2 separate regions of the Homo sapiens genome follow, and region 1 is linked to region 2. The links come from fine-mapping of genetic effects on gene expression. Tissue or cell type: tibial nerve. Region 2 holds a variant in brackets; the other region holds the start of a gene. All regions are shown on one strand. Distances are between the middles of the regions.

Evidence for each region. PIP is the estimated chance that this variant, and not a neighbour inherited with it, causes the effect.
Region 1: SLCO1B3 starts here. The variant in region 2 is fine-mapped to the expression of SLCO1B3 in tibial nerve (GTEx, PIP above 0.99). The same link has a PIP of 0.9 or more in nasal epithelium.

Annotation. Positions count from the first base shown.
Region 1 is chr12:20,807,085-20,815,084 of GRCh38, forward strand. SLCO1B3 (solute carrier organic anion transporter family member 1B3) reads left to right here and starts at 3,621. Exons shown (of 16, transcript NM_019844.4): 1 at 3,621-3,680; 2 at 6,440-6,554.
Region 2 is chr12:20,911,898-20,919,897 of GRCh38, forward strand. SLCO1B3 (solute carrier organic anion transporter family member 1B3) reads left to right here. Exons shown (of 16, transcript NM_019844.4): 16 at 4,107-5,014. The coding sequence ends at 4,350. All of the region lies in intron 13 of SLCO1B3-SLCO1B7 (SLCO1B3-SLCO1B7 readthrough), which reads left to right. The region is part of intron 1 of LOC124902894 (putative solute carrier organic anion transporter family member 1B7); the gene reads left to right. Among named protein-coding and RNA genes, the nearest start is that of SLCO1B3-SLCO1B7, 100 kb to the left of the region's middle. The variant G/A (reference allele first, on the strand shown) is at 4,218.

The sequences.
Region 1 (8,000 bases), 100 kb before region 2:
CTGACTGGTGCATTTACAAACCTTGAGCTAGACACAGAGTGCTGATTGGTGTATTTACAATCCCTTAGCTAGACATAAAGGTTCTCCAAGTCCCCACCAGATCAGCTAGACACAGAGCACTGATTGGTGCATTTACAAACCTTGAGCTAGACACAGAGTGCTGATTGGTGTATTTATAATCCCTTACCTAGACATAAAGGTTCTCCAAGTCCTGGCTAGACTCAGGAGCCCAGCTGGCTTCACCCAGAGGCTGCCTCACCTGGGGCTGCAGGTGGAACTGCCCGCCAGTCCCGCATGCCCTGCGCCCCGCCCTCCTCAGCCCTTGGGCGGTCTATGGGACCAGGTGCTCCTGGAGCAGGGGGCGGCGCTCCTCGGGCAGGCTCCAGCTGGCGCAGGAGCCCGTGGTGCGTTGCCGTGTGTGGGGCGGCGGGGGGAGGAGGGGCGGCAGGGGGAGAGGGGGAGGCTCAGGCATGGCAGGCTGCAGGTCCCCAGCCCTGCCCCAGGGGGAGGCAGCTGAGGCCTGGCGAGAATTCCAGCGCAGCGCTGGCCGGCCGGCACTGCTGGGACACCTGGCGCACTTTCCGCAGCTGCTGGCCCAGGTGCTAAGGCCCTCACTGCCCGGCGCGGCCCGCCGCTCTGGGTGCAGGGCTTGCCGAGCCCACGCCCACCGGGAACTGGCGCTGGCTCGCAAGCGCCGCACGCAGCCCGGGTTCCGCCCGCGCCTCTCCCTCCACACCTTCCAGCAAGCTGAGGGAGCCGGCTCCGGTCTCGGCCAGCCCAGAAAGGGGCTCCCACAGTGCAGAGGGGGGCTGAAGGGCTCCTCAAGCACGGCCAGAGTGGGCGCCAAGGCGGAGGAGGTGCCGCGGAGAGGGAGCAAGGGCTGCCAGGACGCTGTCACCTCTAACCACTACGCCCAGCTAATTTTTTGTATTTTTAGTAGAGAGGGAGTTTTACCGTGTTAGCCAGGATGGTCTCCATCTCCTGACCTCGTGATCCGCCTGCCTCGGCCTCCCAAAGTGCTGGAATTACAGGTATGAGCCACCGCGCCTTGCCCCTACCTTCTTATGGTGGTGACTGACATTAAGAGAGAGAATTGCCATAAGATTAGTCATAATGATACCAGAGCTTTGACCCTTAGTGGGTATGGAGACATGGGGGTTCTTTCCAGGGAGTGCAGCTTTCTGTAATTACGTCTTGACCAGCTAAGGAAGGTGGGGTGGGTAGGCAATGGCAGGTCTGCTTTGAGCCTGAAGTTTCCTTCTGGGAATACGCACCCAGTACCCATCTGAGAACTCAGACTAAAAACTATTAGGAAAAATTGCTGGGGACGTGTTTCAGAGACTTGACTTTTACTCTTGTAATATGAATTAACTGCTTTAAAAATGGACAATATGCAAATGCCATACAATGACTCTATTTAGGTATGGAATCTATAATGTGCCAGGTACTGGGTGAGGCAGTTTACACAGAGCAAATCTTTATTACAACTATAGCCTTCCCACTTAATGGATGAAAGCATAGATACTTAGAATGGTGAAACAACTTAGGAAATTTATACTGCTGTCAAGTAGCAGAGACATTGGTATCAAAGTTTATCAAACTTCAAAGCCCATAATATTTCATCAGAACTGTGATGATTATTGCGGCAACAAACAGCAGATTGTTTTAAGCAAATTTGGAGTTGTATTGATCCACAGCTGTTAGCATAATATTTATCTTGAAAAAAAGTGTTGCAATGTGTTTCCTCTGACCACTCTTATTTTTTCCACAAGTCCCACAAAAAGGGAAGTCTAATTACTTACATAGGAAGAAAAAAGGGCACAGAGAATGCTCTTTGACTTCTGAAAACATTCCAGAATTTTACCACTGATAGCGTTAGTTTAGGGATTAGAAAGTTTCTCAGTGCATTTGTACTATTTTATCTTCATTCTATGCATGTATTTGTCCCAAATGAAATTGATGTGTCTTGAATGAAATGGATGTGTGAGGAGAAAACCATTAGCATGAGAATATCCAAACTGTCTTCCCATTCTGAATAAAAGAAAAGCCATAAAACTGATAATTAATGTTTAGTATCTCTGCTATGATGGTTCTCAAAAGCTGACAGTATGTAAAAATTATTCTAAGTGCTTATTTAAAAAGCATAATCTCCGAACTCGTGAATCAGAATCTCTTGGGTGTGGGGCTGGATCGCACTTTTGACAAAGGCTCCCCAGTAGATTTTGACTCAACAGAGGGGTGTTTGGGAGCCTATATCTAATTTTCCCTGCCCCAGGTCTACACTTCAGTGTTCCCCACATTTTCTAATCCTTCTCTCCCTCCACACTCCGGTTCCTTTCATTATTCTAATACTTCCATGAATTAACCAGGTATAGAACTAATCTAGGCTGGGCGCAGTGGCTCACGCCTGTAATCCTAGCACTTTGGGAGGCCGAGGTGGGCAGATCACGAGGTCAGGAGATCGAGACCATCCTGGCTAACATGGTGAAACCCCGTCTCTACTAAAAATACGAAAAAATTAGCCGGGCGTGGTGGCGGGCGCTTGTAGTGCCAGCTACTCGGGAGACTGAGGCAGGAGAATGGCGTGAACCCGGGAGGCGGAGCTTGCAGTGAGCCGAGATCGTGCCGCTGCACTCCAGCCTGGGTGACAGAGCAAGACTCCGTCTCAAAAAAAAAAAAAAAAACTAGTTTATCAAATAACTGTGATATAGAAATTAAATACATATTGCTGCAACTGTATCAACAACTGTCCTGTCAGTGATAAGGGGTAACAATGTTTTCATACATGCATTCTCTCTTTGCTATATACATACACACATACACATAAATACATATATACATACACTCATGCATGTGTGTGTATATATACATGTGAGAGAAGACTCCGTTTATTATTTATATTTTTATAGTACACTTCTAAAACACAGCCATGTGCCTGAGATATAGTAGGGAGTCAAATATGTTTGAGTTACTGAATTAATTAATTTGACTTCATCCTTACTCAAGAAAAGTTTCAACTGAGTGAAGGTCTTCCATTCTCTAAAGAGCAAGTCAATAGAAGGAGATCATTCTTCCTTTACACATTGATGTAAGGAATATATCATACAAACTAGTCTTGATTTTTGTCATTTAGAAGACTAGTCTTGTAATTAATTGGCAATTTAGTATTCCATGTGAGATATCCAGTGTCCATGTACGTCATATTAGATCCATACACATGTAACAAGCAAAGAGGGTATGTTTTATTTTTTGAATGCTAATGTAACATGTAGGGACATTTTAAAAAATCGCCTTGACATATTTTCTATTTGGAATAGTTTTAAATACTTTGGATAATGTGTTGTATTTGTATTTCTAAAGAAGAAAATCTTATGCAACCAACTTAATTGAATAAGAAATAAATCATTCCCAGAAATAATTTATTTTCTAATGTTAACATAATGTGTACATTCTGAGAAATTATTAATAAAATGTTTAAAAGATAGGCTTCTGGGGTGAACTCCTAGAATTAGCTAGGTATGTTTTTTCTGTTTGCCTAGGACAATGACCTAATAAGATGGTTAATCATCATTGGACTCATAAAAACAAACAAATAAAAAGCCAACTAACCATTTAAAGTGAGACTTTAACATCAGAAAAAGGATGGACTTGTTGCAGTTGCTGTAGCATTCAAAGTCAAGGTAAGAACCGTCGAGGTTGTCTAATTAAAACATTTCTTTTATGTAAGAAATTTTAACAAATTTCAGTGAAAATGTTTTTGGTAGTTATGATAAATATTACAGATTTTATGCTCTGTGTCTTCTCCACACTTTTGTTCTGAGCCCTTAAAGCCTTGTAAATATCCCTTCTAGAAATAGAAGAGCCTCAGATTTATATACTCAAAAATAAGAGTAAATCATACCTTTATAAAGTGAAAAATAAAGTTTGGAGTCCTATTTCTATTGCTTTCTAAACAAATGAAACATGAAGTCTGAAAGGATGGACTTCTAGTTACTCTCTTAAAATATACTATAAGATAATTATTTGTATAAACTGTATTGAATTACTATACCAGGCTCCCTATTTCTTTGATTTCACTTTAACTGGATAAGTAGGAGTGGGCGGGTGGAGGGGTGGAAAATATGTTTCAAAGTCACTTAATCACCTCACTTTCCTCCATTCAACTCGTTTGATTTAGGGTGAGGGGAAAGAGATTTTCTAGATAACTTTTTTATCTCTGTTCAAATAAGAGAAAAAAATCTTCTGGGCACAGCTCTTGGAAAGAATTAACAGCTCAATAAATAATGGTCCCCTTCACCCATTCAGGAAGGTGGCTTCCCTGATAAGACAGTTATTTTTATTGTGAAAGTAAGGTGGGGATGCAGAAATTCTCTCCTCTGAACAATCTAAGAAGTTAGGAAATGCTGTTTTCCCTTTTATCCTCCTCAGTTCCATAGGTACATGCTAGAAACTGGGTCACTTGGCCTGCACTGGTTTTCTATAACCCCTTAAATATGAAAAGCTAAACAGAAATAAGCAGAGGCTGGTAAGATTCTGCCCTCTACTTCAGCCCAATCAAACTGTGAAGAACTGACCTGTTCTGTTCAGGGAAGAGTTGCAATGCTGCATACAAATGCCTGTGGCTCTGTCTATAAACATATTGTGTCCTCAACATTTATTTATGTCAATAATTTGGAACTCAGAAATAATATGTTCAGAGCAAAATATATTAAACGCTTCTAAATAAGGCTTAAAATGCCACAATGAAGTAAAAAGTGTGGTATTTATTCAAGGCTAAATTGATATTCAAGTTTTGTAGGTACTTTGTACTTACTTGATACATTTTTTTTTTTTTTTTTTTGAGAAGGAGTTTCGCTCTTGTTGCCCAGGCTGGAGTGCAATGGCGTGATTTCAGCTCACCACAACCTCAGCCTCCTGGGTTCAAGTGATTCTCCTGCCTGAGCTTCCAGAGTAGCTGAGATTACAGGCATGTACCACCACACCCAGCTAATTTTGTATTTTTGGCAGAAATGGGGTTTCTCTGTGTTGGTCAGGCTGGTCTCGAACTCCCAACCTCAGGTGATCTGCCCGCCTCGGCCTCCCAAAGTGCTGGGATTACAGGCATGAGTCACTGCTCCCGGCCTACTTGATACAATTTAACCTTTCTGAGAGATGAGAAACCAAGTGCCCACATTTCTTATTTTTCTGGATGGGTATTTTATCTGAACATAAAAGAGAGAGGTGTGGAATAGTTGTCTTGGAAAGTACGGGAAATAACAGAAAAAAGTAATGATTATTCGGGTATGTTCTCCAGTGGTACAGAAGGATGAGAGGATGAGAGAGTTTATTTCAACTAGAGGTAAATAGGGAAACATTAAAGTGGTGTGATTTGGAGCCGCATTACAGCCAAGAGATAGGGAAGGACATTCCAGGAATGGAAGACATATACATGAAGGTAGAGAGCTTTTCTGTTGGGACAGTGGTTCCATACATCTGCAAGTGCTTATGGTTGTATTGGGAAATGGGACTAAAAACTTGGATTCATTTAGGCTGTGAAGACCCTCAAATAGGAAGTGTAAGTTTTATTTTTGTTGTAAGAGGGATCTTTGAATGATTCCAAGAATGGACATGATATGCATAGGAAAGAAAGCAAGCTGGAAGACAGGACAAGTAGAAATTAATCAATTGAAAGAAACAAGGCTTGAGTGGTGAGATAATAGTCTTCAAGCCTTCAAGAATATTTGTTTAGTATAAAGAAAAAGAAAACTCTAAAGCTGAAGGAAGACTATCTGCCTTGCAAGTCGTTCAAAAAGATTTGCAATTATAGAATTAATTGGTAAAAAATAAATATTTTCCAACTTTTAAATTATGAAGAAACAGAGATATTCGTGGAAAAAGTGGTGTAAATTTATTAAGGGGCTGCTTATTACCTTGAGACCACCAAATTATTGATTTTTTTCCTCACTTTACCTACAAAACACATACAAAAAGTGGAATAATTGAACTTCTCTTAGAGATACATAGGTATGGGTTTCTCCATTCATGAGTGTATTTATATACACTCGCATATACATAAGTGATAATATCTTCAGATATTGATTTTTCCATATTCATGCATTATCCACTAAATATGCATGATATATATTTATGGTTTTTATGCATTTATAATATAGAGAATCAATAAATCCTTGTTGAGTAAATTAATGCATAAAATATGCAGTAGATCTTCATTATTCACAGATTCTATATTAGAAAATTTGTCTAAACACTAAAATTTGTTTGTGACACCAAAATTAATACTGCTGGGCTTTTGTGATCATTGGCATGCATGAGCAGAGTGGTGAAAAATTTGAGTTGCTCTGTTTCCAGTTGAAGTGGAACAAAGTGAAGCTCTGCCTTCCTCTCTCAGCTCCCATACTATAAACTTCACAGTGCATTTATCGCCACATTGTTTCCATAGTTGTGCTTTGCGATGCTGAGTTTACTGTTTTAAATGGACTTCAAGCATAGCCCTGAAGTGTTGTCCCGTTGTTCCCACCTCCTAGAGGGCCTGACAGAAGAGGTACATATGCTATGTAAGTTTCCCTCAGGCATGAACTACAGTGCTATTGGCCACTAATTCAATGTTAATGAATCAACAGTATATACTAAGGTGTCTTTAAACAAAAACATACATAAAACATTATGTATTAAGTTATGTATTGATCCGTTGATTAAAATATTGTGACCAAAGCCACACAGTCACCTAACACTGTATCTCTTCTAGGAATGATGGATTAATATTTGCAAATTCAGTGTTCCCAGCAACTTTATGGAACATAATTATTGCAAAACGTGAGAATCAATTGTACATATAACCTATATCATACATATTATATAATCAGTATCCTATTACAAATCGGATGCTTATATAGATAACATTGATATTTACATACTTAGATATTTACATATCTAAGGTATCTATATGAGCAGCTACATAGCAAGTATCTACATAGCATGTATCCACATATATATGCTATATACATAACATATACCTATATCTATGTTATGTGTCTGCTTATATACTTTATATACATAAATATGTGTTATGCATATATGTATGAACAAGAATACATCTCTAAACCTTATAAATATTCCACTGTTCTATATAAAAGAGTCAACTGACGTAAAAAGTTGACTCATTTTACTGGTCTTTAAAATAGGGGCTTAATAACTCTGAAACTTATGATTTCTCATATACTTTGACTTCAAAACTTCACTTGTAGGAATTTATCCTACAGATATGACCACACAGAAAATGACATATAACATATTAAGAACATTTTCTAATATGAAATAATTAGATATAAGCTAAATAGTTAACGATATAGAACTAGTTACATATATTATGAACAACAGAATACCCTGCTACCATAAGCAAAATGAGGACTTTTATTAATATAAAGTATATACAGAAGATAAAAAGGTAGAGTGCAGTAATACTGGTATGCTTACATTTATATTAAAAGAGAAAATATTATGTATTTAATTAAAAATGCATATTAAGGCTGGGCGCGGTGGTTCACGCCTGTAATCCCAGCACTTTGGGAGGCCGAGGCGGGCGGATCAGGAGGTCAGGAGATCGAGACCATGCTGGCTAACACGGTGAAACCCTGTCTCTACTAAAAATACAAAACAATTAGCCGGGCGTTGTGGCACGCACCTGCGCCTGTGGTCCCAGCTACTCAGGAGGCTGAGGCAGGAGAATGGCGTGAACCTGGGAGGCAGAGCTTACAGTGAGCCGAGATCACGCTACTGCCCTCCAGCCCGGGAGACAGAGCAAGACTCCGTCTCAAAAAAAAAAAATAAAAAAGCATACCAGATTTCTGGATAAGGGGACAAAGGTTATAAGCAGAATCTTGCCTTTTCTTTTCTTTTCTTTTTTTTTTTTTTTGCATTTTTCAACTACATGCATGTATTTTCTCTTGAAAAATAAGTGGATAAACCCTAAATACAGTAAGATCATGATGATGGTAAGGTCA
Region 2 (8,000 bases):
TTTTCTCCCCTCATGTCCCATTTTAAATTTCACTGTGCCCTACTTTTACTATTATCTTCGGATTACTTTGGATTTAATTTGCTCTTCTTTTTCTAGTTTGCTAAGGTAAAAGATTAAATGATTGATTTAAGATATTCTTCATTTATCTCTAATTCTGCTTTCACTGCATCCATAACATTTGATGTTATAATTTTATTTTCACTTATTTCAAAATATTTTTAAATTTCTCATGAAATTTCATCTTGACCCATATGTTTCTTAGAAGTGTATTGCTTAATCTTCACAGATTTTGAGACTTTCCAATGATCTTTCTGTTGTTGACTTCTAGTTTAATTCCCTTGTGGTTTAAGGACAGATATTACATGATTTTCATTCTTTCAAATTTCTTCTATTTTATTTTTATTTTTATTTATTTATTTATTTATTTATTTATTTATTTATTTATTTATTTTGAGACCGTCTTGCTCTGTTACCAAGGCTGGAGTGCAGCAGTACGATGTCACTCACTGCAACCTCTGCTTCCTGGGTTCAAACAATTCTCGTGTCTTGGCCTTCTGAGTAGCGGGGATTACAGGTGTGTGCTATCACACCTGGCTAATTTTTTTTTTTTTTTTTGTATTTTTTCTTTTCTTTTCTTTTTTTTCAGATGGAGTTTCACTGCTGTCGCCCAGGCTGGAGTGCAATGGTGCAATCTCAGTTCACTACAACCTCCACCTCCCAGGTTCAAGTGATTCTCCTACCTCAGCCTCCTGAATAGCTGGGATTACAGGCCTGCACCCCCACACGCAGCTAATTTTTGTATTTTTAGTAGAGATGGGGTTTCACCATGTTGGCCAGGATGGTCTCAATCTCTTGACCTCATGATCCACCCATCTCGGCCTCCCAAAGTGCTGGGATTACAGGTGTGAGCCACTGCGCCCAGCCTTTTTTTTTTTTTTTTGTATTTTTGTAGAGACGGGGTTTCACCATGTTGTTCACCATGTTGATCAGTCTTGTGTCAAATTCTTGACCTCAAGTGATCTGCCTGCCTTGGCCTCCCAAAGTGCTGGGATTACAGGCCTGAGCCACCACGCCTGGCCTTAAATTTCTTAAGATATCTTTTATAGACCAGAATGTGGTCTATCTTGGTGAATATTCTATATGAGCTTGGGAAGACTTTGTAGTCTGTTGCTGTTTGATGTAGTAGGTTACATCTGTTATACTGTTGGTTGATAGTGTTGTTGAGTTCAACTATGTCTGATTGAATTTTGCCTGGTGAATCCGTGCATTTCTGATAGAGGCATGTTGAAGTCTCCAACATAATTGTGGGTTCATTTACATTAAGTATCCACTTAACATTGTCCATAGGTTCTTAGAAACTGATTTTAAGCAAAACAATACACTATGTACCATAGTAACTATTTTTATACCAATTATCTATGGTGAAATTGGTTTCATTATACAATACATAAATTCACTTTTAAAATTATAATTTCCAAGAACCTGTAGACAATGTTAAGTGAAGACTTACTGCATTTCTCTTTGCAGCTCTATCATTTTCTCCTCACATATTTAGACACTCCATTTTTACATGCTTACATGTTAAGTATTGTTCTGTTTTGTAAAAGGATAATAGGATAACTGATTTCTTTGTTATTATGTAAAGACTTTTTTATCCTTCATAAATTTCCTTGCTTTGAAGTCTGCTCTGTTTGAAATTAAAAAATTAAAATAGGTACTCCCATTTTCTTTTGATTAATGTTATCAGTGTATATCTTCCTCAGTCTAATTACTTTTATTCTGTATGTCTTCATATTTAAAGTGAGTTTCTTGTAGACTACATATAGTTTGGTTCTTGGTTTTAATCCTCTAACAATCTTATTGTTATCTTTTGAGATGGGGTCTCACTCTGCTACCCAGGCTGTAGAGCAGTGGCTTGAACATGGCTCACTGTAGCCTCAACCTCCTGGGCTCAAGAGATCCTTCTGCCTCAGCCTCCCATGTAGCTGGGAACACAGGCATGAACTAACATGCCTAGCTAATTTTTTGATTTTTTGTTTGTTTGTTTGTTTTAGAGATGGGCAACTCTGTTGCCCAGTCTGGTCTCAAACTCCTGTACTCACTTGATTCTCCCATCTTGGCCCCCCAGAGTGCTGGGATTACAGGCATGAGCCACCATGCCTGGCTTATTTTGGTCTTTTAATTGGTGTATTTATATCATTGACATTCAAAGTGATTACTGATATAATTGAAAGAATACTGACGATATTTGTTACTATTTTCTATTTGCTCTCCTTGTTCTTTGATCCTATTTTTGTATTCCACTCTCTGTCTTCCCGTTTTGTTTTAATTGAGCATTTTATATAATTTCATTTTCTCTCATTTGTTAGTTTATTAGTTGTACTTTTTAAATAAAAATTTCAGTGATTTTCCTAGAATTTGCAATATACATTTAGAACTAATCCAAGTTTATATTTTAGTAACACTTTATTAGTTCACAGATTATGAGTACCCTTATAATACCAAAATAACCCTAATTCTTCTTTCCTACACATTGTGTCATTGCTGTCATTTACTCCACTTACTGTAAGCATACATACACATATGAATAAGCATGTATATTATATATAATTAAATACATTGTTTCTATTATTATTTTAAAGAAACTGATTTCTATTAAATCAATTTAGAATAATTTTTTTATTTAACCTTAACTGATTTCTTCTCTGATATTCTTCCATCTTTATGTATATCCGAGTTTATGACCTATATCATTTTCCTTCTAACAAACTTCTTTTAAGATTTCTTGCAAGGAGAGTCTACTGGCAAAACAGTCCCTCAATTTTTGTTTGTATGACAGTGTCTTTATTTCGACTTAGCTTTTGAAAGATAATTTCATATGGTACAGAATTTTTAAGTTGGTGTTTTATTTTTCTTAACAGTTAAATATTTCACTTTGCTCTCTTCTTGCTTGCATGGTTTCTGAAGAGAAGGCTGATGTAATCTTTTCTACTCTATAAATAAGGTTTGCTTTTCCTTTTGGTTTCTTTCAGGATGTTTTCTTCATCTTTGATTTTCTATAGCTTGAAAATAACAAACCTATGCATAGTTTTTCTGGCCTTTATCCTTCTTGGTGTTTTTTGAGCTTCCTGGATCTGTGGTTTGGTGTCTGACATTAATTCAATAAAAATTTTCTGTACTTATTATTTGAAATCTTTATTTTGTTCCTTTCATTTTCCCCTTCAAGTATTTTCATTATAAACACTTGTGTAGTCCTTCCAATGTTCTTGGTTATTCTGTTTTTTCTTTCTTTTGTCTTATTTTTCTTTGCTTTTTTTATTGATATAAACTTAGAGATTGTTTCCTCAGCAGTGCTCTATCTAATAATAAATCCATGAAGGCATTTATCATTTCTGTTACAGTTTTCTTATCTGTATTCTTTCATTTTGGTTCTTAGAATTTTTATCTCTTTACTTAAATTGCTAACCTTTCTTACATTCTGTCTACATTATCCATTAGACCACTTGACAAATTAATAATAGTTGTTTTAAATTTCCATCCCTGATATTCCCTGACATATCTGGGTCTGGTTTTAAGTCTTATTCTTTTCAGACTGTGTTTATTGTCTTTTAGTATGTGACTTGCAAATTTTTCTTGACAGCCAGACAAAATGTATTGGGTAAAAGGAATTGCTGTATATAAGCCTTTATTAATGTGGTGTAAGGCGATGAAGACAAAGTAGCATCCTGTAGTTCTATGATAAGGCCTCAATCTTTTAGTGAGCCTGTACCTCTGGACTGTGAACTTCAAACTTGCTTCTCAGTTTCTGTCTCCCACTCCTTAGGTAGAATGAGATGGCTTGAGGGGGCTGGAGTTATGTATTTTCCTCCCTCCCAAAGGAAGGCTAGAGACAGCTGGGGTTTAGTTTCTGTAGCTTCATATGTTTTTTTAATAATAGAAAAATATCTTATGCCCCCAATGAAAATAATAAATAGAATTGTTCTCTTAATATTTGTATGTGTAACTTGTTTTTCTTTCTTTTAAGATATGCATACTGGGGAGAAAAAAATGTAAGATATTTTACACATTTAAAATAATAATCGACTCTCTATTTTCTCTTTTCACAGAAGGGTCTACTTGGGCTTATCTATAGCTTTAAGATTCCCAGCACTTGTTTTATATATTGTTTTCATTTTTGCTATGAAGAAAAAATTTCAAGGAAAAGATACCAAGGCATC[G/A]GACAATGAAAGAAAAGTAATGGATGAAGCAAACTTAGAATTCTTAAATAATGGTGAACATTTTGTACCTTCTGCTGGAACAGATAGTAAAACATGTAATTTGGACATGCAAGACAATGCTGCTGCCAACTAACATTGCATTGATTCATTAAGATGTTATTTTTGAGGTGTTCCTGGTCTTTCACTGACAATTCCAACATTCTTTACTTACAGTGGACCAATGGATAAGTCTATGCATCTATAATAAACTATAAAAAATGGGAGTACCCATGGTTAGGATATAGCTATGCCTTTATGGTTAAGATTAGAATATATGATCCATAAAAATTTAAAGTGAGAGGCATGGTTAGTGTGTGATACAATAAAAAGTAATTGTTTGGTAGTTGTAACTGCTAATAAAACCAGTGACTAGAATATAAGGGAGGTAAAAAGGACAAGATAGATTAATAGCCTAAATAAAGAGAAAAGCCTGATGCCTTTAAAAAAAATGAAACACTTTGGATGTATTACTTAGGCCAAAATCTGGCCTGGATTTATGCTATAATATATATTTTCATGTTAAGTTGTATATTTTTCAGAAATTATAAATATTATTAATTTAAAATTTGAATTTGTGTTTGACTAACAACCTCGATGGATCTTCTTCCAACCTCCCATTAAGATCCTGCAGAAGAAATAGAAATATTCAAATATTGCAAGGTGTAATTGTGAGACAACTTATTATAATACGTGTTAAGTTTCTACTGGACCCATGGAAGTGGATTAAGAAAAACCGACTTTAGCTTGAGAAAGCAAAACCCATTGATAAGATGTGTCTTCATTGCATCTGTCTGTTCTCTGGGAGAAGCAAAATCTGTGTTACTTCCTTGCATACTTGTTTGTTTATTCATTGTGCACAAGAAGATATCTTCCACATCTTCACAAGCTGGATAAGAAATAGAGAAAATGAGATCAAATATTTAAATATTGCATTTTCTGGTAGTGATGCAGGATATTTCTTGGCCTCTTCACTGGACTCACAATAGAGGTGCCCTGTTTATTTGGTCTGCCATGCTCAACCCCTTGTGGGAGGGAGAGTGTGAGTGACGTAGTGCAGGACCATGTGGGCTGTCCTGGTCATCGACACAGAAACAAGCTCTGTGAGTTTCTCATGGCCAGACCAGGTGCGAGTGAGTGAATGCTGGACCTGGGCAACCGCTCCAGGCACTGAAACGAGTGAGTTACATGCAGGGCTGGCAGCCAGGCAAGGTGCAAGGGTGCTCAGGATCCTGAAGCCCCAGAGGGGTTGTTATGGTGCTCCTTTAGTTCCACCGTCTACAGTCTAACAGATGGCAGCATGTTAGCAGCTCAGTTGGCCCCTTGTCTCTTTACCTTGGGTGGCTGCCCTCTGCCAGTGAGGGCAAAGGCCAGTGTGACAGATTTTTCTGGGTACCTGCATTCGGTGGGTTCCAGGCCCTTGTCTGGTGTCCAAGAAGAATGAGGTCACATTGACAGTTGAAGGGTGGTGAAGGTGGAGAGTTTTAATGAGTAATGAAAACGACTCTCAGTGGAGAGGGGAGCTGGAGAGGGGATGGGAAGGGCCGGTTGTCTTCCCCGAAGTCCTGCTGTCTCTTCCTCGAATTCAGGCTGTCTCCCCAGTCTACCAGCTGAGTCTGGAGTCTTTATAGGCACAGGATGGGGAGTGTGTGCTGACTGGTTTCTGAGTATGCAAAAAAGGTTAAAGTGAAGGCACCACTCAAAGGTGGGCATGACAGTATAGAAAACCAATTAAGAAAGAGTAGTTATATCTAAAATAGTTGGAGGGTGGGACCAGTCAGAGGAAAGCCTGCCAAATAAGAAGACAACTTCTCAATCTGGTCTAAGGCTTTAACTTGTAGCCTGGCTTTTGGACTTTAAACTGTCATCAGCTTGGAGGTGGGGTTTCACCGGAAACCTGCCCCTATTTGCCTAGGCATTTGGCTGTCTCCTGTCACTATCAGGAGCAACATCTCTACTTAGTGAATGCTAGAGGTTGTAGTTTATAATTCTCAATTGGTTAAAAGATGTTTTGTATCAGAATCAACTGTAAAAATATATTTTAAAAGAAATATAATTATATACCTACTGTAGAGATTCCAAATTCAAACATGTGTGATATCGCTTGGATATCTTTAAAACATTCCACATGATGCTAGGATTCCTTGATAGACCACCATGGTATAGGAAAAGGTGTACCTGAGTGTAGTAAAGTCACAAGAAATTATTACTAGAATATGGGAACTGGCCTGGAAGATATATAGATATATACGTGTGTATGTATGTGTGTGTGTGTATGTGTGTGTGTATATATATATCTTTATACCTGTTCTCAGACTGTAATCCTAAGGAAAAAAAATTAATCACACAAACAGAAATTTGAGGAAACCCACATACATGCTAGGTTTGTAGGTATCATATAACAAATCTAATGTGATCACATGCACACACACATATACACACACACATATAATCATATATATTGAATACAATGTGATATTTCAATACATGTATACATTGTGTAATAATCAAATCATGGTTATTAGTGTATCCATCACCTTATACATTTATAATTTCTTAATTATGAGTACATTCAAAGTCCTCTCTTCTAGCTTTTTGAAATATATAATGCATTATTGTTAGCTATTGTCACCCTACTATGCAGTAAGTACCAACAACTTATTCCTCCTAACTGGAACATTGCACTCATTGACCAATTCCTCCCCATCTTCCCCTTCCCCTGTTTTTCCTGTCTTTGGTAACCACAATTTTACTCTTAATGTCTACGAGATCAATTTGTTTAGATTCTTCACATGAATGACATCATGCAATATTTTTCTTTCTGTACCTGACTTATTTCCCTTAACATAATGTTCTCCAGGCTCAACTATTTTTTTGTAAATGACAGGATTTCATCCTTTTTTAGTGGCAGAATGGTAGTCAATTTTGTATATATGCCACATTTTCTTTATCCATTTCTCTGTTAATGGCATTTAGGTTGATTCCATGTTTTGGCTAAAATCAACAGTGCTGCAATTAACATGGGAGTGCAAAATGACTCTTCAGCATACTCATTTCATTTTCTGTGACGATATACCCAGTAGTGGGATTGCTGGATCATATGGTATATCTATTTTTAATTTTTTGAGGAATATCCATGCTGTTTTTCATAATGGCTGTAGTAATTTCCATTCCCAACAATGTATAAGACTTTCCTTTTTTCCACAGTATTGCCAGCATTTTTTCTTTTCTTTTTTTTGTTTTGTTTTTGGTCTTTTATGACAGCCTTTCTTAGTGGGGTGAGGTGATATCTCATTCTGCTTTTTATTTGCATTTCCCTGATTGTTAGTGATATTGAGCATTTTTTTCATATAACTGTTGTCCATTTCTATATCTTTCTTGGAGAAATATCTATTCAGGTATTTTGTCCATTTTTAAATTACATTATTTTTCTATTGAGTTGTTTGAATTCCTTATAATTCTAGATAATAACCTCTTGTCAGATGTATAATTTGTAAATATTTTCTCTCATTCTGTAGGTATTCTCCTTAGTCTGTTGATTGTTTTCTATACACAAGATTTTTAACTTGATGTAATTACTGTATTTTTGCTATTGTTGCCTGAGTTATTGAGATCTTGTCTAATAAATCCTTGCCCAGGCTGAAGTTATGTAGCATTTCTCCTTGCATTATTCTAATAGTTTCATAGTTTTGGGTTTTACATTTAAATCTTTAATCTATTTTGAATTGAATTTTGTATATGGTGAGA